Linked DNA regions of Homo sapiens: region 1 is linked to region 2. The links come from fine-mapping of genetic effects on gene expression. A gene starts in region 2. The other region holds a variant in brackets. All regions are shown on one strand. Distances are between the middles of the regions.

Region 1 (5,367 bases), 140 kb after region 2:
GAGGCTTCTTGGTGATGGGGTACATGGTAAAACCAGCAGGGTGGAAAAGAGCTGGGAATGGGCTTGACAGCAAAATGGGCAAATGCCCGGCAAGCTCACCAATATGGCATGTCATTCAATCCTTTGATCTTGGCTAATCTGGTGGATGAAACATGTCACCTCAACGTGTTTTCATTTCTTTTGAACGTCATTTTATGTACTTAAGAGCCACTTGGATTTCCTTTTTTGTAAACTATTGATCTTTTTTTTTGCCTGTTATTCTTTGGAATGTTGGTACTTCTTTATGTTTTAGTAAAAGGAGCCTCTATCTATCCTTTGTCAGATAATAAGACTATTTTTCTAAGTAATTCTTTATCTACTTCTTAAGCGGTACAGAAGTGTTTTATCAAGAAAAAAATATGTGCATAGTTTTATTGAAGGTCTTGTATTGTGTGGTTTATAACTTTTCGTGGCTAGATAATGTATAGGAGAAGAAGTTATAAATGTAGTTAGGCTCTTGATGATGGGAAGCCTCATATTATAGGCCAAGAACTTTGGGTTTTACCCCAAAAGCAATTGTAAACCACTTTAAGAAAAGTGTGACATAATCAGATTTGCTTTTAATACTATACCAGTGATTGTTTGGGGTATTGCAAATATATATTTTTACCCCAGATTTGAAATGCCACTTTGTCCTATACTAAATACATTTACATCTATTTCTGGAATTTTAGGCCTGTTACCTTGAACTGTCTGCTTAATAATATTTTTTGTTTTTTGTGTTTTTTTGAGATGGAGTCTCACTCTTGTCATCCAGGCTAGAGTGCAATGGCATAATCTTGGCTCACTGCAACCACTGCTTCCTGGGTTCAAGCAATTCTCCTGCCTCAGCCTCCCGAGTAGCTGGGATTACAGGCAACTGCCACCACACTGGACTAATTTTTGTATGTTTAGTAGAGATGGGGTTTCACCAGGTTGGCCAGGCTGGTCTGAAACTCCTGACCTCAGGTGATCCACCCACTTCAGCCTCTCAACGAGCTGGAATTACAGGCGTGAGCCAACGTGCCTGGCCTAATAATGTTTTAATATGACATTATTTTGTTTACTGTGGCTTTATGTTTTAATATTTAGTAGAAATTTTTTCTCCATTGTCCATTTTCAAAATGGATTCCTGGATAAACTGGCTTAATAGTTTTCCTATATTAACAGTCTTAGTCCATTTGTGTTGCTCTAAAGGAATATCCTAGGCTTGACAATTTATAAAGAAAAGAGGTTTATTTGGCTCACGGTTCTGCAGGCTGTACAAGAAGCATGGCGCCAGGATCTATGTCTGATGAGGGCCTCAGGTTGCTTCCATTCATGGCAGAGGGTGAAGAGTAGCTAGTGTGCAAAGATCACAAGATCAGAGAGGAAGCAAGAGAATGGAAGGAAGAGTTGCCAGGCTCTGTTCAACCACCATGTTTAGTTTTCATGGAAACTAAGGGTGAGAATTCACTTGCTCCCTCCAGCGAGAATGGAACCAAGCCATTCATGAAGAATCTACCCCCACAATCCAAATACCTCCCACCAGACCCCACCTGCAACATTGTGAATTAAATTTCAACTTGGAGGGCCCAAAGAAAACAACTTCAAACCATTGCATTCACTTCACAGTTCTCTAGTCCAGATGTGCTTTCCTCCTTAAAAAAAAAATTCTGCTGTTCTTTGCATTGGGATCCCAATCCCAAGCACTGCTGTCTTCAGGGGCCAGCATGATGTATCCTCAGCTCCTCCTCCACCTCCTCTCCTAACACTGCCCTGAATTTTCTCTGCCTTCCCCACTCTGGCCCCCTTGCTATTGCTCAAACATGCCATGGCCTCCCATCTGCTACTGTCTTCATCTCTGTTCAGCAAGATTGAGTGGCCTCAACTTAGGACCAGGACCCCATCTATAGTCATTTGGGTGGGACTTTTCTCTACACCCTGGGATTTGGGGATGTGGCAGGTCCAATGTCCCGGTCAGCAGGTGGCGGACACAGGTCCTGGAACTGAGGCTGAATCTTTCCCTCTGTTTTCCCTAAAACAGTCCCAGGCATTGGGCAGGTGCCATTTTTTTCAGCTGCCTCTTGAGTGGCGTCAGGCCTGATTCCCTCTCAGCCTCAAGCAGGAACAGGTTGAGTCCCTGTTATTCAAGCAGCTGACCTCTCAGCAGCCTGATTCTGGCCCCAGAACCCTGCAGGCTGAAGGCTTCAGTTCCACACACTGCTTTGGTTTGGATCTGCATCTGGCTTTTGGAGATCTTTAGCTTGTTTCTGAGACCACCTGTGTCTTAGTGGGTTCCTCTTCTGATATTCTATCTCTCATTTTTATGTGTTCAGTACAGAGTGGGTGTGAGGAAGCATGAACTTCTGTGCACCATTGTGACTAGACCACTCATTTATCTTAGCAGACACTCTGAGGTCTGTCTCTCACGAGCTCCTGCTAAAATAACACATTAACCAGCCTGTACTTGTGTGGCGGTTTGGGGGTGCAAATGCTGGACCTTGCAACAATTCCTTCTAACAGCAGCCCTGTTGGAGGAAAGGCAGGTGGGTGTGACTGCAAATCTGTGGTCTCCAACCACAGCAGGGCCTCTGCAGTTCTGCACAGAAGCTCAGCTGGCTTCCTCTTGTCAGCCTCAGCACTTGATCTGGCCCCTCCATCACAGCAAATATGAATAACAGTGCTGACATTGTTCTTATCAGTACGAATGGGGCCGTCAAGTTAAACACCAGCAAGTCCTCTCACTCTTCAACTGTGCTTATCCTTCCCTCCAGGAATTCGTTTTTGTCTCCAGGAATTCTCTGCCTAGAGAACAACACAGTTGCTCTTTACCCTCACACAACACTTCTAATAGATGTGTGGGTTGGTTTTTTTTTTTTTTCCACCCCAAGCAAGTCTCCAATTTTCTGAATACCAGCTAGGAGTCCTACAATTTCATTAAATTCTGATACTATCTACCTGGAGTTAGCATCAGATCCCATGAGTTCAGGGCTCAGTCTCACAAGACTGCACCCCCCACTTCAGACACCAATCAGGAGTCCAGGCCTGTACTCCCAGGGACTCAGGATGCTGAGTGACCAGCTATAAGTTAGGGTTCCTGATCTCCTCCTTGGGTTTGATAATTTGCTAGAATGATGAGTAGAACTCAGGCACTCAGAACTTAGGTCTACTGTTTACTCAGGAAGAGCAGATGGAAAAGATGTACAGAGTAAGGCATTAGGGATGCAGGACATGGAGCTTCCACTCTGTCTCTGGGCACACCACCCTCCCAGCACCTGCATAGTTTCAGCCATCTGGAGCCCACCATGTCTTGTCCTTCAGTAGTTTTTATAGAGCTTAACC[C/T]CCAGGACCTGATGCCATTTCCCAGATGTCAGTGGGTGGGGCTGAAAGTTTTGTTTTGTTTTGTTTTGTTTTGTTTTTTAGACAGAGTCTCTCTCTGTCGCCCAGGCTGGAGTGCAATGGTGTGATCTCGGCTCACCACAACCTTCGCCTCCCAGGTCCAAGAGATTCTTCTGCCTCAGTCTCCCAAGTAGCTGGGATTACAGGTATCCACTACTATGCCCAGCTAATTTCTGTAGAGACGGGGTTTCACCATGTTGGCCATGCTGATCTTGAACTCCTGACTTCAGGTAATCCACCTGCCTCGGCCTCCCAAAGTGCTAGGATTACAGGCATGAGCCATTGCGCCTGGCCTGAAAGTTTTAGCCCTCTAATCGTTTGGTCTTTCTGAGGACTATCCCCATCCTGTAGCTATCTCGGTCCCCTATCTAAGTCACCTCATTGGCATAAACTCAGGAATGATCAAAAGGGACTTATTATTAATAACAAAAGACACTCCTATCACTCAGGAAATCCCAAGGATTTTAGGGGCTCTGTACCAGGCATTGGGGACAAAACCTGAATATATTATTATACCATAATGCCTCTCCTTTTTATCTAAGCCTTGTTGCCCAAACTGCCCTAATTCTTATCCTTTCAGGTTTCCTGTTTCATCAATTTCCCCTTCATTTACATATAAAATCTATATTTTACTCTGGTCTCTTTTATTTCAGCATATTATTATGGTTAAGTGTCTCTCATTTTCCAAACAGTAAATATATAAGGAGTCTCCCCCTGCCTGGCACACCTTCTAGAGTCTACCTTCCTTGCCCCTCATCACAAAACAAATTTCTCAGAGCAGTCTTTGCTCTTGCCACCCCCTTGCCACCCTTCTCTTCTGCAACCCATGGCCATCAGACCTCGGCCCCATCGCTCCACTGAAACCATGCAGTGAAGGTCAGTCACGAGCTTTTAATTGCCAAACCCAATGGGAAAATTGGTTTGGGTTGCTTGGTTTTTGTTCCTTAGCTTTTCTGCAACATTTACCACTTCTTCCCTTTGGAAACCCCACACTTCTTTGGCTTCTATGCCGTTGTCTCCTGTTCTCAGGACATGTCTCTGAGTTCTGTTTTGCCTCCTATAATAGTCAGGGTTCTCCAGAGAGACAATCAATAGGATGTATTAGAGGGAATTTATGAGGGAATTGGCTTAAATTATCACAGAGATGGAGGAGTCCCATGCTAGGCCATCTGCAAGCTGGAGAACCAGAGAAGCTAGTAGTGTGGCTCAGTCCAAATTCAAAGCCTCAGAACCAGGGAGGTGGACCATGTAGCCCCCAGTCCAAGGCCAAAGACCCAAGAAGCCCTGGGAGGCTGGTGGAACAAGCCTCATAGTCTGACAGCTATAGAACCTGAAGTCCAATGTCCAAGGGCAGGAGGAGAAAAGCATCTTGCTCTGGAGGGGAAAGGGGAGAGAGAGTGAGAGAGAGGGATGGAAAGAATAAATCATCCCCTTCTTTCTCCTGTTTGTCCCAACTAGGCCCCCAGCAGATTGGACGGCACCCACCCACACTGAGGGCTAGCCTTCCTCTCTCTGTTCACTGACCCACATGCCAGTCTTATCTGGAAATATCCTCACAGACACCCAGAAACGATGCTTCTCCAGCCATCTAGGCATCCCTCAATCCAGTCAAGTTGACACCTGGAATTGACCCTCCCACCTCCTTCCCACTGGCCTGCCTCCTCCACTCCTGGCTCTTCTCTCCTCCTGCGTCTTTCTCTCTGGCTTTCTCATGTGTACAAGCCTGCCTTTCCATTTGCCTGTGGATAATAACATCTGTACTGGATGGAATAGTGTTTCTCAAAATTCATGCCCACCCAGAACCCTGAATGTGACATTTGGAAACAGGGTCTTTGCAGATATAATTAGTTAATATGACGTCATCTGGATTCGGGTGGGCTCTACATCCAGAGACTTGTAAGAAAACCTGTTCTTCTTACAAGAAGAAGAGAGGAGGATGGCATATAAAGAAAGCGGCAGAGATTGGAG
Region 2 (5,367 bases):
CCCGGGAGCGGGGCCTAAGTGGCTGCACCCCCGGAAGCCCAAGGGCCGAGGTCCTGGAGCTGCCGCTCTAGGGCGGTCCCCTCGGGATTTCTTCCAGGAAGGAAAGCAAAACACAACAAAACAAATCCAGACTCCACGTGGGGCTGGAACCCAGTCCCAGCCCTGCTGTGTTCTAGCTGGTCCCGGGTTTGGACGCCAGCGAAGGAAGGCGCGCCCGCGCTCTCCATCGGGGGGACTCGAGGGCAGCGCCGTGCGGGGAACATCCCGGCCAGCCCCGGCCATTCGAGGGGACTTGCGTCCCAGAGGAATTGCCCTCATCTCTCCCACCAGCGCCGACAAGCTCAAACAATGGCGCGGACGCCCACCCTGGTGGCCTAACCAGGACCTGGCCCCGCTCAGCCGCCAGGCCTTCCGGGACAAGCCCCTTCCTGGCACTTTCTCTTGGAGCGCTTTGGGGAGAAGGGAGGGGGACTGGGCTCATTTGGAGGAGCAAAAGACAGCCCTCGCGGAAAAAGAAAGAAAAATCAGCAAAATCGCCTTAGCAGTTCAACCAAAGGTCAACAGCAGCGTTTCCCCAGCAGCTGACAGGTCAAATGGGCAGGAAACAACTGCGGGGAACAAAGCCCCCCGCTGTCCGGCAGGGGCGAACCCGGCTCCTCCGCACTGAACAGTTTTGTTGTGCTTTTTGGAGGGGAGAGGTTTCCGCCCCCTTTCCAGCTCCCTTCCTCCCGGGTGGACAGGTCGGAAGAGGAGCGGAAAGGAAAGGAAGGGAGGGAGGCGGCGAAGGCGCCTGCGGGGGGGAGGAGCGGCTCTTTGATGGGTGTGGGGGGGTCTGAACTGCCTACCGGGCTCGGAAGCGCAGACCCTACCCGCGCGGAAGAATGCGCGGAATGCGGCGGCGGGAGGCGGAGGCGCAGCGCGGCGGGGGGCGCCCGGACCCCACGCGCCCTGCCCGCTCCCTAGCCCGAGGGCCGCGGACCCACCCTGCCCTGCAGGTGTGGCGGGCGCCAGGTCCCTCCAGGGACTCGGACAGCACGCGATTTTTCCAGGATTTCCGACTACCAAATGTGACAAGACAGTCTCGCCGCCGAGAGTTTCGCCAGGGCTCGCTAAAATCCGGCACGCGCCGCCATCAGATAGTCGAAAATCCGGGCTGAACAAAAGGTGATCATTCTCCGCTGCCCGGATTTGCAGGCGCTAGAGGACCGGTTCCGCCCGGCGTCCCCCAGATACCCAGTCCTTCAGCCTCCCGCTCCCAGAGCCTGGATCTAGCCCGGGACGGGGATTGGCCACCTTCCAAGCTGAGCTTGGAGTTGGGCAGCGGGAACGCAGATACAGATCGCTCTACACAGTGTGTGCAACCCAATCTCCCTTTCTGCATTTGCCAGGGTCTTGTTTTCAGTGAAACTGGCAAGGCCAATTGTACCTCGGCGCCCACCCCTCTTCACCTTTTCTCCACCTCTGGGATTCTCCCGGTCCGGCTCAGTGTAGGGCCCCAGCACGCCAAACCAACAGGCCTATCTTGTCCCCACGCGCCCCGTGGTACTTGGAAACTGTTCCCGGGACTCAAGATGGACCGCGCAGAGGAGTCGCTTCATCCTCGAGGCTAGGACCGTTAATGTCAATAAACGGGGCCTCGCTAGGACGGTGCGGAATTGCAGGTGACCGGAGAAACCCGTCCGCACTTTCCCTGAGGACTTGAACCTCGCACTTGCACAGAAACCTTGCAAACCCCTACACACCAACACACACAAAGGGGCGCGCGGGGATCCCCGCAACCACGAATCACGCCGGGGACTCCTTCCCGTGCCAATAAGGCGCAGGCCGCCAAGACCCCCTCCATCTCCCCGACTCCAGCTAGCGCCCGGAGCCCTCGTTTACCTTTGAGCAGGCAGATGTCGGTGCGCTCGGCGTTGCGGCGCAGCGCCTGCACCACCAGCGACACGGTGCTGTCCTCGCGGAGGCTCTCGGCGCGCGGGCTGCGCTCGTCGTAGACGATGACCGCCGAGTAGAGGCCGGAGCGCAAGCGGGCGCGTACCTCCTCCTCGGCGGGCAGGATCTGCTCCAGGCTCACGGAGCCCTTAGCCCGCCGCCGCACGATGGTGTTACAGCGCACGTTGACCGAACCTAGGATGTAGCCCGCGCTGTGCGCCAGGAACGGTCTGCAGTCCAGCAGCAGGCACTTGCCGCCGCTCGGCAGCCCCAGGGTGCCGTGGCTGCCGCTGCCGCCCGCGCCGCCGCCATTCTCGTCCCGGTTCATCAGCCTTTTGAGCACACTGCAGTCCATCTCCCGCAGCTCCTCCATCGTCACCATGGTCGCCGGGAACCGAGGCGGCTGGGCGCGCGAGGAAGAGAAGAGAACCCGGGCCGCCTAGGCTGCAGAAAGGGGCGGGCGAGAGCTAAGAAGGGACGCCTGCAGAAGTGGCCGCAAACTTGGTCCTCAAGGGCTCCCGCGGGAGAGCCTCTTCTTCCCTGTCCCCTTCCTCCCGCAGCCTCGCGGTCACATAGCAGTCGGAGCGGCCTCGGGCGCCCAGCCGGGCGGCGCGCAGAGCGGAGGGGGAGGCGCCGGTGGAGGAGAGTGTGTTTACGAGAGAGGACCGCGGACTCTTTTCGGCGACGGCCTCCCGTGTATTTTTGCCGGTCGCGCGGCTCCTGTCGCCACTGGCGCCAGCGCTGCCCTGCCTACGCTCCTCCGGCGCTCAGCGCACTGCCCCAGCCAGAGTTTTCTCCTCGGCTTAGAGGTTTATTAATGCTCCTCCGCGCTCCCGGGGGAGGGGGCGCTAGGTACTACCCCGCCAGGCCCCGCCCCGTTCCATTCCGGGCCCCGCGCCGTCCCCCGCCCCCCGCGCTGTCCCCCGCCCCCCGCGCTGACTCCCCGCCCCCTCCGGGCCCCTCCTCCCACCCCCTCCCCGGAGCTTGAATGGAGCGCGGCCGCTGGCTCCCGGTCACGGGAACTCGACGTCACAAAGAGCGGAGTAAACAGGGCGCCGGGTGCTCGCCATCAGGCCCATTCATAAAACCGAGGCCGAGAGGAAGAGGGAGGCGGCCTCCGACCCGCCGCCAGCGGCGGGCAGCGCCCGGACTTTGTGAATGGAGCGCGCGGCGCCTTTCGCCGTCTACCCGCGGGCCCAGCCTGCGCCGCGCCTCCAGCCCGACACCGGCACCTGTGCCGCCGCTGCACCCCGCCGCTAGGCGGGCGGCGCCAAAGGAAATAGCCGGCTGAGGAGGCCAGGGCTCGGGTTTGAGCTTTCATCCCTTGGCACCTTCGCGCTTCCCCGCGTGACAGCCCCGTAGGTTTTTCCCGGTTACCCAAGTGGAGAGGGGACCGGAGCGCTGCTGCCCACCCAGCGGGGCCTGACACCTCCTAGCCCCAGACTCCCCGTGCGCTTTCGGCCCGGCCAGTCCTTTCTGAATATGCGATTCCTGAGACGTTAGCGTATGCATTAGCGTGATCGATTTTCATCTAAAGCCATTAAATCAGTTTTATAGCTTCCCCAAGAACGTGGGCAACCCCCTGCTTGGAAGATGAAAGAGAAAGTCCTCCCGCCCGAAGCCCAGGATCGGAGTGAGGTGTGGGGTTTGTTGCTTTACTACCCAAAGGGAGGCATTAATTGCCGGAATGGTGTTCCGAGGGAGGAGAGCAGGCTGCGCTCCTGTCCACGCTTCCTAAAAGATGTTTATTTAACCCTGGTCGGGGGAAAAACAAGGTTTTCGGGTTTGGGAAACGTCTTCACCCTATCTTGCATAGTTGTGAATTATCCTTTCAGGAAATGACAGGGTCCACATTTGTTGCGGAGCTGGACCCTGGAAAATGTACCCGCAAAGAATGACCTTTTGAAAGGACTTCAGCAGCTCTGGGTCCGATTCATGTTTCTGGGCATCCCTTTTTCCTGGTCACGTAGCAGCCCTCCCCATCCCCATTTCTCTTTTGCATTTAATTTCCCAGAGGCGGCTTTTGGCTGGGGGTTTGTGCACGCACGCGGTGGGGACCGTGCAGAAGCCAAAAATCATTCGCCCGACATCTTGCCAAGTCTTGTTAGTGAGAATTAATCACAGAGCAAGGGAGTTACAGGACTCGCTCGCAGTTTCGGAGGCTGCAGAGTAGCGTATTCCATTCCGGGGCGCGCGTGGAAGCCCGACCCAGGCAGCGAGGGCACCGGTACCCGCCGGGTCTCTCCCGCCCAAGCTCACCCTCTCCCCATGCCTTTGTTCCGGGCGGAGCGGCTTTCCCGAGCTCTCACCTCCGGTCCCGGGGGCCATCCCTGCACTCCCCGACCGGAGCTCGGCGGAGCCTCCACTTCCGAGACCTTCGACTGGCCTCGTCCCCCACTGGGCCCCGAATGCCTCGACCCCCGGGCCCTACTCGGATGAGCTGTAGGGGCACCGCTTGGGCAAGGTGATATTTCCTTTTGCTCCGGGCTCCAAAATGGCTTACGATGGCACTGCACGGATCCTTTCTCTTTTTAAAATTTAGTATTTTATTCATCATGGATTTTTTGCATTTTTTTTTCTTTTAAAGAGGCATTGCATCAAGATATTTCTTTTGATTACTGACTTTTCGGCGCCCTTCTTAAATGTTGCGCTCAAGGCTTGTGCTCACCCTAGTCCAGGCCCTGGAAGGAGCCACAACTGTGGACTGACCGAGGCTGCCCGGTGGCAGGACCCTGGGCGTCGGGCACTCCGGGTGGGAGATCAGTGGTCAAAGCCGCACGGCGTGGCCTCCCTGTGGGGAGGGCAAAAGGTGTCTGAGTCCAGTTTCCCATTCTGCTGAATGGGACTGTGGGGGTCTATCTAATAACTCGCTTTCGATAAGGAGCAAGGAGCCCCAGGGGCCCCGACAGTCCAAGGCTGATTTTGCTTTCCCGGGTTGCTCTCCAGCAGCTCAGAAATCCGCCGCCTGCCAGGACCCAGGGCCGGAGCTCTCCCGGCGCAAGTAAACACTGATTCCTTTACAAAGGCTTTAACAAGACATTTCTGGGAAAAGCCTCTCAGGAGGCAGGTCCGGGCCAATTTCACGCGTGTCGCAGGAGCTGGGGAGACGTCCCTGGGGCGCACGGGTCGCGCTCTGGGCCAGCTTTTGTCTACCCTGTTCTGGGGTCGCCTTCCCCGCCGGACCCGCGCCTGGCGCTCACGTGGCCAGTAAATAACAGTCAAATCCAGGGGGAGGAAAATGCCCATAGAACAAAGAGGCTTGCTTTCTGCACCTGACAGTAATCGCTGGTGGAGAAGCCCTAAATCCCGCAGGCGATTCACACGGAAAGGGGTGTGGGAGGGCGCGTGTGAGTGTGTGTGTCCACGTGTGCGTGCCCGCGCCTACGCGGCTGTTCACTGGAAGGGAGTCACAGCTTGGGACTTAATGTGTTTAAG

What was found. PIP is the estimated chance that this variant, and not a neighbour inherited with it, causes the effect. A credible set is the group of variants that fine-mapping cannot tell apart.
Region 1: its variant is the best candidate, but not a certain one, in a credible set for the expression of DUSP4 in whole blood (TOPMed, PIP 0.81).

What each region holds. Positions count from the first base shown.
Region 1 is chr8:29,488,108-29,493,474 of GRCh38, forward strand. No RefSeq gene overlaps it. Among named protein-coding and RNA genes, the nearest start is that of LINC02948, 71 kb to the right of the region's middle. RefSeq lists enhancers at 1-310, 2,097-2,156, 2,412-2,917. The variant C/T (reference allele first, on the strand shown) is at 3,343.
Region 2 is chr8:29,347,965-29,353,331 of GRCh38, forward strand. DUSP4 (dual specificity phosphatase 4) reads right to left here and starts at 2,720. Exons shown (of 4, transcript NM_001394.7): 1 at 1,882-2,720. The coding sequence starts at 2,314. It overlaps LOC124901924 (a long non-coding RNA gene), which reads left to right and starts at 3,010. Exons shown (of 2, transcript XR_007060876.1): 1 at 3,010-3,570. RefSeq lists silencers at 838-1,007, 2,578-2,897, 3,088-3,227 and enhancers at 1,718-2,219, 1,748-1,897, 2,220-2,719, 3,418-3,487, 3,528-3,637.